2 separate regions of the Homo sapiens genome follow, and region 2 is linked to region 1. Evidence: fine-mapped expression QTL. Tissue or cell type: whole blood. Region 1 holds a variant in brackets; the other region holds the start of a gene. All regions are shown on one strand. Distances are between the middles of the regions.

What was found. PIP is the estimated chance that this variant, and not a neighbour inherited with it, causes the effect.
Region 2: CNPY3 starts here. The variant in region 1 is fine-mapped to the expression of CNPY3 in whole blood (TOPMed, PIP above 0.99).

The regions. Positions count from the first base shown.
Region 1 is chr6:42,852,945-42,861,164 of GRCh38, forward strand. It overlaps BICRAL (BICRA like chromatin remodeling complex associated protein), which reads left to right. Exons shown (of 13, transcript NM_001393499.1): 8 at 694-794; 9 at 2,912-2,973; 10 at 4,147-4,292; 11 at 7,318-7,412. Among named protein-coding and RNA genes, the nearest start is that of RPL7L1, 23 kb to the right of the region's middle. The variant G/A (reference allele first, on the strand shown) is at 4,225.
Region 2 is chr6:42,925,764-42,932,993 of GRCh38, forward strand. It overlaps CNPY3 (canopy FGF signaling regulator 3), which reads left to right and starts at 3,717. Exons shown (of 6, transcript NM_006586.5): 1 at 3,717-3,958. The coding sequence starts at 3,808. It overlaps CNPY3-GNMT (CNPY3-GNMT readthrough), which reads left to right and starts at 3,717. Exons shown (of 5, transcript NR_134892.2): 1 at 3,717-3,958. PTCRA (pre T cell antigen receptor alpha) reads left to right here. Exons shown (of 4, transcript NM_138296.3): 4 at 1-75. RefSeq lists enhancers at 3,110-3,611, 3,196-3,245, 3,256-3,305, 3,612-4,113, 3,756-4,015 and 1 more.

The DNA.
Region 1 (8,220 bases):
GTCCTAGCTACCCAGGAGGCTGAGGCAGGAGGATCACCTGAGCCTGGGAGGTCGAGGCTGCAGTGAGCTATGATTGCGCCACTGCACTCCAGCCTGGGCGACAGAACAAGACCTTGTCTCAAAAAAAAAAAAAAAAAAGAAAAGGTATTTTACAGTACTTGTGACTTTGAAATTATCCCCATGTTGCTCTCTACATGCATGTTTGGAATTCTCCACCCAGACTGAAAATATTATGGACTATGTCTTCCGTTTTTTCTAAGGCTTTGAACATCTGCAGTACCCAATTAGTACTTAAAAAAAAAAAGGCAAGAAAGAGAAAAAGCTTGAATATTCCCAGTCAATTGCCTCTTTGGGCCTCCCTTTCCTTAAATTGTATTTTGGGATTCTGTAGTGCTGACAGATTACTGGCTTGAGGCCTGTTTTTCAGACTATAAATAATTTGAAACTATAGCATTTGGAGCTTCTATTTATTACTATTTACTTATTTATTACTTAAATAGGCTTTAATAACCTCTTCCTTTAGAGCTTGTAAGTAAATGCACTACCCTGCCCTCCTTCTTCACAGCAAGCAGCCATGATAAAGAAACCCGTTTCAGAATGCTCAACAGTCTGTACCCATTGGGTTCTAGGGTTATATGATGGACCCAATTTACTGTTTCTTTTGAACACTGTCTCATGTATTAATTCTAATAGGGCAGGATTCTGGAAGCAAAGTTATATCCGCATCCTTAGGAACCGCACAACCACAGCAGGAAAAAGTAGTTGGATCATCTCCTGGCCATCCAGCTGTGCAGGTAGAAAACTATTGGCATAGCCTCTTCCTAATGTTCGGCATAATTGAATGAAAATGTAGTCGTGCTATCTTTGTGGTTGCTGGCTAGCTTTGTGTGCACAGTCCACCCAGTCCCCTGTGTGCCCACAACAGGGTGGTCATTGAAGACCTTCCTGGTGGGCTGGGCCTTGTTATGTTTATGTTTCTGAGATGAATGTCTATTCTATTTCTGACATGTTTACAGTGCTTCATTAATCCATCATTTCCTCATGAATTAGTAATATACCAGCAGCTAGTACATACTAGGCACTCAAAAAATGTCATTTACTACTAGGTGATATCGTTCACTATTATATCAAAGCGAATCTCTTCTTCTTAGTTATACTGAGGGATTTTTGTTTTTCTGTAGTAGTAACCAGGCGTATAGGAAGTAGGCCATCCCTACGGTCTTTTGACCCAACTTTGACACTTTTTAAAGTCCAACTTTTTGGTTTTTGTTTGAGACAGGGTCTCACTCTGTCACCCAGGCTGGCATGCAGTAGTGCAATCACAGCTTACTGCAGCCTTGACCTCCCAGGCTCAGGTGACCCTCCTGCCTCAGCCTTCTGGGTAGCTAGGACAATGCCCAGCTGTTTTTTTGTATTTTTTGTAGAGATAGGATTTTGCCATGTTGCTCACACCTGTCTCAAACTCCTGGGCCCAAGCCATCCACCCACCTCAGCCTCCCAAAGTACCTGGATTACAGGTGTGAGCCACTGTGCCCTGTCTAGTCCAGCTGGGTTTTTTGTTTTGTTTTTGTTTTTGTTTTTGTTTTGTTTTGAGTTGGGGTCTCACCCTGTCACTCAGACTGTGCTGCAGTGGTGTGATCACAGCTCACTGAAGCCTCGATCACCTGGGCTCATGCGATCCTCCCACCTCAGCTTCCTGAGTAGCTGGGACTACAGGCACGCACCACCACGCCTGGCTAATATTTTTATATTTTTTTTAAGAGAAAACGTTTTGCCATGTTGGCCAGGCTGGTCTGAAACTCCTGGGCTCAAGCAATTCTCCCACCTCAGCCTACCAAAGTGCTAGAATTACAGGCTTAAGCAACCACTCCTGGCCTAGTTTTTTTTGTTTGTTTGTTTTTTTGATACATGATAGATGTACATATTTTCAGGGCACATTTGATAACTTCAAGTTTGGCTTTTAAACCTAAAAGATTTCAAACTACTAGTCTAAAATGGAAGGAAACATTTCTTGTTTTCAGCTTACTAAGACAGTTTCGTTTCCATCAGACCTACCAATTAGTGGTTGAATGAAACTTGCTGCAGTGTGGGACTGCCTGGAATACACAGTGAAGGATCTGTTCAGTTCTAAGGTTCTGAGATAAGGCCTATTTGTTTCCTTAACATGATGTAAAAAATGCCTCGTTAGATCACACACCTGGACTATATATAACAGGAGCTTAAAAGTGTGTATCCCATACTTACACTGAGAAGATGGATTAGATAGTATCTACTGACTTTTCAGATGTCTGTGGAATTTCAAAAATATAACGATGGGTCAGTGCTGTGGCTCACACCTGTAATCCCAACACTTTGGGAGGCCAAGGCAGGCGGATGGCTTGAGTCCAGGAGTTCGAGACAAGCCTGGAAAATATGGCAAAACTCCGTCTCTACAAAAAATACCAAAAAATTAACAGGCGTGGTGGTGCATACCTGTAGTCCCAGCTACCTGGGAGGCTGAGGTGGGAGGATCACTTGAGCCTGGGAAGCAGAGGTTGCAGTGAGCCGAGATTGTACCACCACACTCCAGCCTGGACGACAGAGCACGACCCTGTCAAAAAACATGATGATGATGATGATGATGATGATGGTGCATTTAGAGAGGAGGTAGGCATTCAGGCTTTAAAGTGCAAACTGAGTCCCTCTCAGGAACCGATTATACACCTTTCTGTAATCTTAACACAGTACAACTTTGTTTCATGGACTCTGTGTACTGGTTTTTTTTTTTTTATTTTTCAGCAGGGCACATTCTGTAGTCTTAGAATATGTTCTTGATAGGTAGTTGAAAATATGTGAACTATAGTGACCTTTATGTATAACTGTATTCTTTTTTCTATAAAAGGGAATAATAAGAGGTTTGTTTTGTCTTTAGGTGGAGAGTCATTCGGGAGGACAAAAAAGGCCTGCTGCGAAACAGCTAACGAAAGGAGCTTTGTGAGTTACTCTCGGAAATGACAAATCAATTCTGAACACTTCTTTGGGTCCCTAGCCTTCAATAAATATACCACAGAAAACAGGTTATAATAATGAGTATATTAGCCTTTTTAAAAATGTACTTTGAGGCAAGGCATGGTGACTCACTCCTGTAATCTCAGCACTTTGGGAGTCTTAAGGCAGGAGGATCACTTGAGCCCAGGAGTTTGAGACCAGCCTGGGCAACATGGCTCTGCAAAAAATACAAAAATTAGCCAGGCGTGGTGGTACGGGCCTGTAGTCCCAGCTACTTGGGAGGCTGAGGTGGGAGGATAGCTTGAGTTCTGAGGTGGAGCTTGCAGTGAATTGGAGATTGCGCCACTGCACTCCAGCCTGGGTGACAGAGCAAGACCCTGTCTCAAAATATATACATATATACTTTGAAAATCTTTTTCTATACTTTCTTTTCCTTTTTTTTTTTTTTTTTTTTTTTTTTGAGACAGAGTCTTGCTCTGTCGTCCAGGCTGGAGTGCAGTGGGACGATCTCGGCTCACTACAGCCTCCGCCTTCTGGGCTCAAGTGATTCTCCCACCTCAGCCTCTGGAATAGCTGGGATTATAGGCACCCGCCATCACGCCTGGCTAATTTTTGTATTTTTGTAGAGACAGAGTTTCACCATGTTGGCCAGGCTGGTCTTGAACTCCTGACCTCAGGTGATCCACCCACCTCAGCCTCCCAAAGTGCTAGGATTACAGGTAGTGTATACATTTCAAATATATTGAATGTAGTTTCAGCCTACTGTTTGCTCTTTTCTTCTTAAGGAGAATAGTTCTTTGTCTTTTCAGAGACAAAGAATCTCTGAGGAAAAGCGTGGTTTGGTAAACTCCCATGTTTAGAACAGAAATGTTAGCATGAACTTAGTTGGCCAATGGTCAGGCACTGCCAAGGTTTATAGGGGTGCCAACACATAAATGATTGGTGGGAACCTGTGCTTTTGAGGTCAGGGTCATAGTTTGAGTCCTCTGTGGGGCTAGTTAAACTAAGTTATAAACCCACTATGGTATAAAAAATATAAAACTAAAAAACTGCCGTATTATTCCTATATATCTTATTTTATTTGCATGCAAATAAATATGACTAGATTTAATTTCCTAACATGACTTTACATTGACATTGACCATTTCCCTTGTAAAGCATTCTCCAGCAGTTGCAGAGGGACCAAGCCCACACTGTGACACCAGACAAAAGTCACTTCCGATCACTAAGTGATGC[G/A]GTACAGAGACTGCTCTCCTACCACGTGTGCCAGGGCTCCATGCCCACTGAAGAAGACTTGAGAAAAGGTAAGCAGGCTGGGACCCTAAGGCACCACTCTGATACCAGGAAACCCTCCATGGACACCCCCCAGAAAAGCAAGAGCCACATCACCCCCAGATGGTAGGCAGGTTATTGTTTTTAATCACAGACCAAACTTGTTCCCTGTTTACTCAATTTCCCAGTCCATGTTTAAGGTTGTGACTTACACTTCTCAGTATTTTTTGAAGGGAAGTCAAGAGTAGGGGCACACACCTGTAGTCCCAGCTACTCAGAAGGCTAAAGCAAGAAGATCATGTGAGCCCAGGAGTTTGAGACTATAGTGTGCTATGATCACGCCTGTAAATAGCCATTGCACTCCTGCCTGGGCAACATAGGGAGACACTGTCTCTTAAAAAAAAAAAAAAATATATATATATATATATATATTTTTTAGGAGGGTACCCTAATGTCAGAGTATTTTATTGACAAATTAGGGACAGTAAATCCAAAGCTTTGTATGGACTGCCGGCTCCAGATGGGATGGCTTTGCACTAGACACTCTACACAGTGGTTTTGCATAGTCCTTGCCTTTAGGCCATATGCATACCCTGAATTTTTTTTTTTTTTTTTTTTTTTTTGAGATGGAGTCTCGCTCTGTCACCCAGGTTGGAGTGCAGTGGCACGATCAACTCACTGCAACCTCTGCCTCCCAGGTTCAAGTGACTCTCCCTGCCTCAGCCTCCCCAGTGGCTGAGATTATAGGCGCCCACCACCACGGCTGGCTAATTTTTGTATTTTTTTAGTAGAGATGGGGTTTCACCATGTTGGCCAGGCTGGTCTTGAACTCCTGACCTCAGGTGATTGGCCCGCCTCAGCCTCCGGAAGTGCTGGGATTATAGGCATGAGCCACCACTCCTGGCCAAACTGTTTCTAATAGTTTTATGAATTAGGCACTTGAGCTCCCAAAAGCATTCCCTAAGATTCCAAAATGAGTCCAGAGCATTGGCCACACATCAAGAAACTGACAAAAATGTGAGAGATAAAGGCTGAGCACAGTGGCTCACGTCTGTAATCCCAGCACTTTGGGAGGCTGAGGCAGGCCGATCACCTGAGGTCAGGAGTTCAAGACCAGCCTGGCCAACATGGTGAAACCCCGTCTCTACTAAAAATACAAAAATTAGCTGGGCGTGGTGGCACACGCCTTCAGTCCCAGCTACTTGGGAGGCTGAGGCAGGAGAATCGTTTGAACCTGGAAGGCAGAGGTTGCAGTGAGCGGACATCGCACCACTGCACTCCAGCCTGGATAACAGAGCAAGACTCTGTTTTAAAAAAAAAAAAAAAAAAAAGGCTGGGCGCAGTGTCTCACACCTGTAATCCCAGCACTTTGGGAAGCTGAGGTGGGTGGGTCACCTGAGGTCAGGAGTTCGAGACCAGCCTGACCAACATGGAGAAACCCTGTGTCTACTAAAAATACAAAATTAGCCAGGCGTGGTGGCACATGCCTGTAATTCCAGCTACTCGGGAGGCTGAGGCAGGAGAATCACTTGAACCCGGGAGGCAGAGGTTCCCATGAGCCGAGATCGTGCCATTGCACTCCAGCCTGGGCAACAAGAGCGAAACTCCATCTAAAAAATAAATAAATAAATAAATAATAATTTAGAGATAAGAGCCCCTTCCCCAAACCTAGAACTCCTTCTGTCCTGATGCCTGGCCATGCTCTTTCCCACCACCACCGCTAAGGCCTGGCTGTATCAGTGCCCTCCTCTTTTCTAATCCCTTCCTCAGCTGCTACAAGTCTTACTCCTCCTGGCAGGGACCTCTAATCTCAGGGCACAGTGGTTTCTGTGAGTCCACTGTGGGCTTCCCTAGGACACCAAGGAATAGGGTCAAGATCCAGCGTTAAACAGGGGGTGTGAAAGGGCTGGGCATGGTTCTTCACGCCTATAAGCCCAGCATTTTGGAAGGCCGAGGTGGGCAGATCATGAGGTCAGGAGTTCGAGACCATCCTGGCCAACATGGTGAAACCCCATCTCTACTAAAAATACAAAAAAATTAGCAAGGGCATGGTGGTGCACACCTGTAGTCCCAGCTACTCGGGAGGCTGAGGCAGGAGACTCACTTGAACCCGGGAGGAGAAGGTTGCAGTGAGCTGAGATTGCGCCACTGCACTCCAGCCTGAGCGACAGAGCAAGACTCTGTCTCAAAAAAAAAAAACCCACAGTGGGTGTGAAGACTGAGAAGAAGAATGAATTAGAAGGTGTTCAAATCCTTGGAGACCAACAGACAGAGGACAGAGCCACATGACCATGACAGTTTAATGTAAAGCTGTGTCTTTACATTAAACTGGTTTACCTAGTCCAGACAGTTGGACTTCATTGTTTCAGCTATTTTAGTTTTTCATACCATTAGGCTTAGGTCATCTAAACTAGCAGATCATTCTCTACTCATTGATATATATATATTTTTTTTTGAGACAGAGTCTCATTCTGTTGCCCAGGCTGGAGTGCAGTGGCACGATCTTGGCTCACTGCAAGCTCCGCCTTCTGGGTTCACGCCATTCTCCTGCCTCAGCCTCTCGAGTAGCTGGGACTAGAGGTGCCCGCCACCACGCCCAGCTAATTTTTTTTTTGTATTTTTAGTAGAGATGGGGTTTCACCATGTTAGCCAGGATGGTCTCCATCTCCTGACCTCGTGATCCGCCCACCTCGGCCTCCCAAAGTGCTGGGATTACAGGCATGAGCCACCGTGCCCGGCCTACTCATTGATATTTATTGCGAGTCTGTTATATGGTTTTATTTTATAGGTGATATCAAAGTAATTATGTTTTTGGTTTCCTAGTTAAAGTTAAAAGAGTTAGTAATAAAATGAGTTTCCATGACCAGTGGACAGTGAGGGAATGCAGTGTAGAAGGATGATGCTTAGCCGGGGAAAAGCTCATCTAAGAAGAGAAAATTGCCCCAGATAAGCCATGTTTGAATAACAGAAGAGTAATGTATTTCAGTCTTAAGAAACAGAAGACCTAGTCAGTGATTTACAGTCTCTCACTATTTCTTTGTCTCTCTCTTTTTAAAGTGGACAATGAATTTGAGACAGTTGCCACTCAGCTCCTAAAAAGGACCCAAGCTATGCTTAACAAATACAGATGCCTGCTCCTAGAAGATGCCATGGTAAAAGTCATGCTACTGATATTTGTTCTTTAAAACTTTACAGGTCACAGCCACTAAATCAGAGACAGAAAGGTCAAGGAATTATAGAATATAATGTAAAAGTAACAGATATTTCACACTGTAGAAAAACTTACGCTTAGCTGCTACTACAAAAACAGCAGTGAACATTTGCTGTACTTTACTTGGTGGGTCAGTACTATTCTCTTGTTTAACGGATAAGGAAACCAGGGCTTTGGTTAAGTAACTTGCTCGAGAACAGATGGCTAAGAAGTTTGCAGAGTAATTAGCAGAGCTCGGATACGAGCCAGGATCATCTGACCCCTGGTCCACACTCTGATGCCATCTACCGCCTTTCACCAACCCAGAGATGTGGGAGAAGGACTGGAGGCACATCTGAACAGATAAGCTGGTGACAAATGTCAAAATTAGTTTTGTTTTTGAGAGATCATTGACATTCCATAAAATTTACATTTAAAGTGTACAACTGAGGCCAGGCATGGTGGCTTATGCCTGTAATCCCAGCACTTTGGGAGGCCAAGGCGGGTGGATCACCTGAGGTCGGGAGTTCAAGACCAGCCTGACCAACATGGAGAAACCCCTTCTCTACTAAAAATACAAAAAGAGCTAGGCGTGGTGGCGCATGCCTGTAATCCCAGCTACTCGGGAGGCTGAGGCGGAAGAATCACTTGAAGCTGGAAGGCAGAGGTTGCAGTTAGCCAAGATCATGCCATTGCACTCCAGTCTGGGCAACAAGAGCGAAACTCTGTCTCAATAAAATAATAATAATAATAATGAAAAATAATGGATC
Region 2 (7,230 bases), 72 kb after region 1:
ATCCACCCAGTTACAGGGGCATTTAGGGAGCAGATGACTGAGAACATTAAAAAAGAACTTAAATGACACAGCAAATGAAAAATATTTGAATTCATGTCTATCCTGGGAGGAAGGAATTTGGCAGAGTTAGAAGTAGGAAAAATCCAGGAAAGCTCCCTTGAGGAAGAGGGCTTCCTGAGACAGAACTTGGGAACTGCAGAGTGGGACTGGTGGCTGGGAAGGCGGCTGTCTCCTCCCCCAACAGCAAGCGGGGAGGCCCCCTCTTCTCCTCACCCTGGCCCAACCTCTGTGAGAGGTCAGGGCAGAGAGCCCAGGAACCCAGGAAGGTGGGTGGTGGGTCTGATGTGAACTCTCGTACAGAGGTGAACAGGGCCAGGGTTTCTGGGGAACAGGATCGTTTTCAATAACAAGAGTATGAGATATTAATTCCAAACTTACAGTTTATTAATCAATTAAGAGTCATTATTCATTTGACAAATATTCTTTAAGTATCAACCCTGAGCCAGGTACTAAAGAGGTTTGGCTTTTTTGGTCTGGTTGTTACATAAAGAAGATTCTTGTATTGATCAAGTATGAGGCTTCCACAGTAGAGCATAACGTGTGCGTCCCCTGCTTGCCCAGCGCTGGCAGGAAATCCAGACTTTCCCAAGGGTTCTCTGCTAGTAATCACTCCAAGAGACTCTGGGTGCTGTCATGTAAATCCACCTGTCCCTTGGGCCCCATAGGATAGTCTGCTGGATCAACTTTAGTCTTCCTTCCCCCAGGGAGGGGATGGGGAACTATGCCCCAGCACCCCAACACATGGTTTCAAGGACACCCTCAGCTCCCCTGAGCCTCTGTGCTCTCTCAGCTACTGTTCCATAAAAACTCTCACTGCCTCCTCCACTGCTCATCTCTCACCAGCCTGAAAGGAGATTCTCCCACTTGTTTTGGGGATTCTTGGGTGCTGGTGGCTGGGGTGGGAGGGTCCCATAGCTTCTACGGATGAATCTGTCCACCATCCCCACAAGGCATGTTCCTTCTCTGACACACAGACTGAGGGAGGGTGTGGGCAGGGGCCCAACTATAGCCTCAGACTTTCTCTGGCCACTATCCCTTCCTAGCTGTCCGGCCAGATGCTGAGCCCAGGCTTCTCAATCTCCACTGTCAGGCTGGCTTAATCTTATTTCCCAGGAGGGCTTCTGAGCCGAGGTGAATCAAGGGCCATGGCCAAGCTCTGAGCCTACCCAAGTATTTTATTTTATTTTATTTTATATTTTATTTTATTATTTTATTTTTTGAGATAGGGTCTCACTCTGTCCCCCAGGGTGGAGTGCAGTGGTGCGATCTCAACTCTCTGCAATCTCTGTCTCCCAGGTTCCAGCAATTCTCCCACCTCAGCCTCTCAAGTAGCTGGGACTACAGGCACACGCCACCATGCCTGGCTCATTTTTGTATTTTTTGGTAGAGACAGGGTTTCACCACATTGGCCAGGCTGGTCTTGAACTTCTGACCTCAAGTGATCCGCCTGCCTTGGCCTCCCGAAGTGCTGGAATTATAAGTGTGAGCCACTGTGCCCAGCTTGAGCCAACCTAAGTCTTATCAAGCCTAGAAAACATGGAGGACCTTAGGAGGGTGTCCTGATCTTGTACACTGTGGAATTCCACATGCCACAGCCCCTGCCTATCCAAAGTGCTTTGTTACCAACACAGTTTTGGACAAGAAACTAAAGTCAGAAAGTGGCAAGGCCTGGGCCTCAGTGCTCTGAAGTCTTCATAAAATAGCATAAATATCCAACCTCTAGGAAGGAAACAAGAAGGTATCAGGGAACAGGGTTTTATGGCCAATTTGCAGACAACTTCCCAGAGAAGCAACTTTGGTCTGTGTGCGTCTGTAGGACACTGAGTTCAGGGGCAGCCTAAAGAAGACCAAGAGTGCTCCTCTTTATTTTTATTTGTTTATTTTTATTTTTTGAGACGGAGTCTCGCTCTGTCGCCAGGCTGGAGTGCAGTGGCGCGATCTCGGCTCACTGCAACCTCCACCTCCAGGGTTCAAGCAATTCTCCCGCCTCAGCCTCCCAAGTAGCTGGGACTACAGGCACCCACCACCACGGCTATTTTTTTTTGTATTTTTAGTAGAGACAGGGTTTCACCATATTGGCCAGGCTGGTCTCGAATTCCTGACCTTGTGATCTGCCCGCCTTGGCCTCCCAAAGTGCTGGAAATACAGGCATGAACCATCGCGCCCGGCATTTATTATTTTTGAGATGGAGTCTTGCCCTGTCGCCCAGGCTGGAGTGCAATGGCGTGATCTCGGCTCACTGCAACCTCCATCTCCCAGGTTCAAGCAATTCTCCTGCCTCCACCTCCCGAGTAGCTGGGATTACAGGCGTGTGCCACCACGCCCGGCTAACTTTTTGTATCTTTAGTAGAGATGGGGTTTCAGCATCTTGGCCAGGCTGGTCTTGAACTCCTGACCTCGTGATCCACCTACCTCGGCCTTCCAAAGTGCTGGAATTATAGGCGTGAGCCACCAAGCCCGGCCTCCTCTTTATTTTTTATTTTGATTTATTTATTTTTGAGATGGGGGGGGTGTCTCGCTATGTTGACCAGGCTGGTCTCGAACTCCTGGCCTCAAGCAGTTCTCCCTTCTTGGCCTCCCAAAGTGCTGGGATTACAGACATTAGCCACGGCGCCTGGCCTTTTTCTTCTTCTTCTTCTTTGTTGAGACAGGGTCTCAATCTGTTGCCCAGGCTGGTCTCCAACTCCTGGGCTCAGGTGATCCTTCCGCCTCGGCCTCCCAAAGTGCTGGGATTACAGGCGTGAGCCATTAAGTGTTCCCCTTAATGACACAGCAGATGAGAGTTTTACTGAGTATCTCCTTGTGCCAGGCACCCTGTTGTTGCTGGGGAAGCGGAAGGGAGAGACAATCGTTAATCGGCTAAATTTCTGCCTTCTGAGAGCTCAGAATCAAGAAATAAATAATAGGGCAGTAAAAGGGGCTGGGATTACATACAAAAAGAAAATTAATGCCTGAACTTTTTACAATCTGCTCGATAAGCTTTAATTCTATTAACCTATTTGAGCTTCCCAACAACAGGCAAGCTCCCACAGCAGCTAGGAGGATCACTTTGTCGTCATACAAATAGAAACAGGCTCAGAGAGGAAGTCATTTGTTCTAGTTCTCACTAGGACAAATCTACTGGCTACTAAAAAAGTGTGAAGGCTGGGGACAGTTTGAGTCGTCCTGCTTGCACCTTAAGCGCCTACAAGAGTGCCCGGCTATAACAACCACAATACCAATAATAAAATTTAAAAACAGATGTTCAGTAAGGACTTGCGGCATTAGGACCCCAGGAGGGAAGTGACGTTCGAGGAGGCGGAGAAAGCCGCGAAGACGGCCTTCCCCACATCTTCCAGCACCTGCGCGCCTGAATCCGTCCCACCCAGGCCCAGACGCAGGCTTCTTCTCGGGTCTTGGTCCTGCATCCTCTCTCTCCCAGAGCCTCCGTTAGGGGGTGGGAAAGGACTTTGCCATAGGTCGCTGAGGCCACCATCTGCTCTCTTACTGGCCAAGGGCGTAAAAAGATAGTCTTCCCATTAGCTAGAGAGCAAACCCCAGAAAGCCTATTGGCTGCGCCGTCCGCGGGCCTTGGTCCGCTTTGAAGGCGGGCTGCGGCTGCGAGAGGAGGGCGGGCGGGAGGCTAGCTGTTGTCGTGGTTGCTCGGAGGCACGTGTGCAGTCCCGGAAGCGGCGAGGGGAAACTGCTCCGCGCGCGCCGCGGGAGGAGGAACCGCCCGGTCCTTTAGGGTCCGGGCCCGGCCGGGCCATGGATTCAATGCCTGAGCCCGCGTCCCGCTGTCTTCTGCTTCTTCCCTTGCTGCTGCTGCTGCTGCTGCTGCTGCCGGCCCCGGAGCTGGGCCCGAGCCAGGCCGGAGCTGAGGAGAACGACTGGGTTCGCCTGCCCAGCAAATGCGAAGGTGAGGAGGCGGGGCCCGTGGGGCGTATCCTGCCGGAGGGGCTGGCTCCAGCGGTGGTGCTTGCGGAGCAGCGTCGGGGGTTGCAAGGTTCCGAGCTCTGCAGGGTGTCTTCCTTCCTTGAACAGGCTTGCGCCGGGACGCTGCGGCGGACGAGAGATCTGGTCCCGGTACCCCTGGAGTTCACACATTGGTAGAAACAAGCAATGATAATTCAGAGTAGTAGATGCCATGATAGGGGAGGTACAGAGCTTCCTTTTGGGGGCCGGACGAGGAGCATCTGGTCTAGCCTGGAGTGGGGGAGGGGGTGGGCGAAGGCTGTGTGCAGAGGGGAGTCAAAGAGGGCTTCATACAGGAAGCACGAAGAGGCATTAGGAGTTAGCCGGATGAAGAGAAGTGGAAAGAGAGGGGCCCACTCAGGAAACTACAGAGGCAGAGGCCTGCCGGCTGAGAAGCTAAGAACGAGTTTGAGGAACTGAAAAGCTCCAGATGACTCATCTTGGGGGAAAAAAACCTAAGACTTTCCCCTTTTGCCCTCACTGCAACCCAATCTGTGTAGTTGTCTGTTGCACCCACTAACAACTCCTCGAAGGCAGGAATTTTTGTCTTAGATACGTATTCACACAGTGTCTGGTAGGCACTCAATAAATGTTTTGAGAATACAGATGATTAAATGGGAGACTGTGGGTGTGTGTGAGGAGGAGGATCTGGATCTGAGGAGCCCTTTGGGGGAACAATAGAGCCTATGGGGAACTTGAAAGAAGATTTTAGGACTTTGGAGAAAAGGTGAGTCCCAAAGACATAGGCGTTGAGGAACTACAGAGAGAGAGAGAGAGGGAGCTACCAGCGAGCCAGGACTATAAAGGACCTATTTCTTTTTCCTCAACTCCGTCCCTTAGTTTTCTCCTCAGACCTTACAGTCATGCCTGCCTTCCTAGCCCCGTAACCCCAGGGCCCCCAGAAAGTTGGCTGTGAATCTCTCATCTGAATTGAAAGCCTACATCAGGCCAGATGTTCCCTAAACACTGGAAAGTGGGTTTGGGGTAAGTTTCGGACACATAATCCTTCCATTAGAGAGATTAAAAGGATGCTTTAGAGATAAGCCGACTTCACTGGTAGGGCACCCAGTATGAGTTCAAGCCTGTGCCTTCCCCCGTACATTCTTTTCTTTTTTTCCTTTTTTTTTTTTATGAGACTGTCTGGCTCTGTTGCCCAGGCTGGAGTGCAGTGGCGAGATCTCGGCTTATTGCAACCTCTGCCTCCTAGGTTCAAACGATTTTCCTGTCTCAGCCTCCTGAGTAGCTGGGATTACAGGCGCATGCCACCATGCCCAGCTAATTTTTGTGTTTTTAGTAGAGATGGGATTTCATCATATTGGTCAGGCTGGTCTTGAACTCCTGACCTCAAGTGATCCACCTGCCTTGGGCTCCCACAGTGCTGGGCTTATAGGCGTGAGCCTCTGCTCCTGGCCGCCCTTTCACTTTTCGCTCTTCCTCTAGTCCTGATAGCTTTTTTTTTTTTTTTTGAGATGGAGTTTCGCTCTTATTGCCCAGGCTGGAATGCAGTGGCGCGATCTTGGCTCACCGCAACCTCCAGTGACCCACCCTCCTCGGCCTTACAAAGTATTGGGATTACAGGCATGAGCCACCGTGCCTGGCCTTTTTTTTTTTTTTGAGACGGAGTCTTGCTCTGCCCAGTCTGGAGTGCAGTGGTGCGACCTTGACTCGCTGCAACCTCCGTCCCCCAGGTTCAAGGATTCTTCTACCTCAGCCTCCCGAGTAGGTGGGACTACAGGTGTGTGCCACCACTCCCGGCTATTTTTAGTAGAGACGGGTTTTCACCATGTTGGCCAGGCTGGTCTTGAACTCCTGAACTCGGGTGATCCACCCACCTTAGCCTCCCAAAGTGCTGGGATTACAGGCGTGAGCCACTGCACCCAGCCCAGCTAACTGATAGCCTTTCAGCGTTTCGCTTCCTCTTCTCTTTCTTTTCTGTCTTATTATTATTATTATTATTTTTTTTTGAGACGGAGTCTTGCTCTGTTGCCCAGGCTGGAGTGCAATGGCACAACCTCGGCTCACTGCAACCTCTGCCTCCAGGGTTCAAGTGATTCTCCTGCCTCAACCTCCTGAATAGCTGGGATTACAGGCACCTGCCATCATGCCCGGGTAATTTTTGTATTTTTGTAGAGACTGGGTTTCACCATGTTGGCCAGGTTGGTCTTGAACTCCTGACCTCAGGTGATCCTCCCACCTCAGCCTTCCAAATTGCTGGGATTACAGGCATGAGCCTCCGTGCCCAGCCTGTATTCTGTCTTATTCTGATATCAAAGAGCCCATACTCTCCCTCTTATTATTCTCATAGCCTAAGGAGCTCACATTTATTCTCCTTAGGCAACATTCACAGACTCACGGAAGCATAGAGATGCCCAGGATCTCTATATCTCTATATCTAGAGATCATTCTAGTCTACCCTCATTTGGTAACTGATGAAGATTAATTGAAAAGGGATTTGCAGTCACAGGATGGCTTGGCAAACTCCAACCGTTAGGTTCATCTTAATAGTATATTTGTTTGTATTATTATTACACCTTTGTTATTAAATGCTGACTGTGTCTAGCCCACCAAGCCTGCCTCCTGGCTCAGTAGCCTGAGTGGAACAGGCCTCGGCACAGAGGAAGGAGAACCTGCCCGGAAAAAAAGAGTGGGTGGATGTCAGTGAGGGTCTGGTGTCTGTGCCGTGAATCTCCTGTGAGTCTGGTTCTGGGTGGGATCCGCAGAGGAGGTCTTGAAGAGGTAATGTTTGGAAGAGCTGGAAAGCAAGGCTGTGGTTGATGGGTATGAGAGAGAAAGGATGTTCCAAACCTCCCCTTTCCCCACTCCTGGGGAGGGCGTGGGAGGAGGGGCAAGTGGTGCTAGAAAAATGATGTGCCTGCACAGAGTACAGGACAGAAGAGGGGAGGGAGCCCAGATGGTCCTGGATGGAGAGCTGGGGAGGTGAGACATCCCCAGTTCATTGCAGACTTGAAGATCACCAGCTTATTACTTGGAATTTGTATGTGTTTCAAATTCTCCAAGCCATTGATTAATTTCACCAAGCAGGCCTCCAGGGGATGTATTTATTTTTGTGGTAAATTGGTATTCTAGCAGACTGTGCTGTCAGTGTTAAAACTGCTGATGGCATTTAGCCTTCAGACTGGTATTCCATTCAGAGGCATCAGAAGACGGTCTCTATCAACAAGATTTATCGAGCGTCCAGCATATATCAAGTCCCAG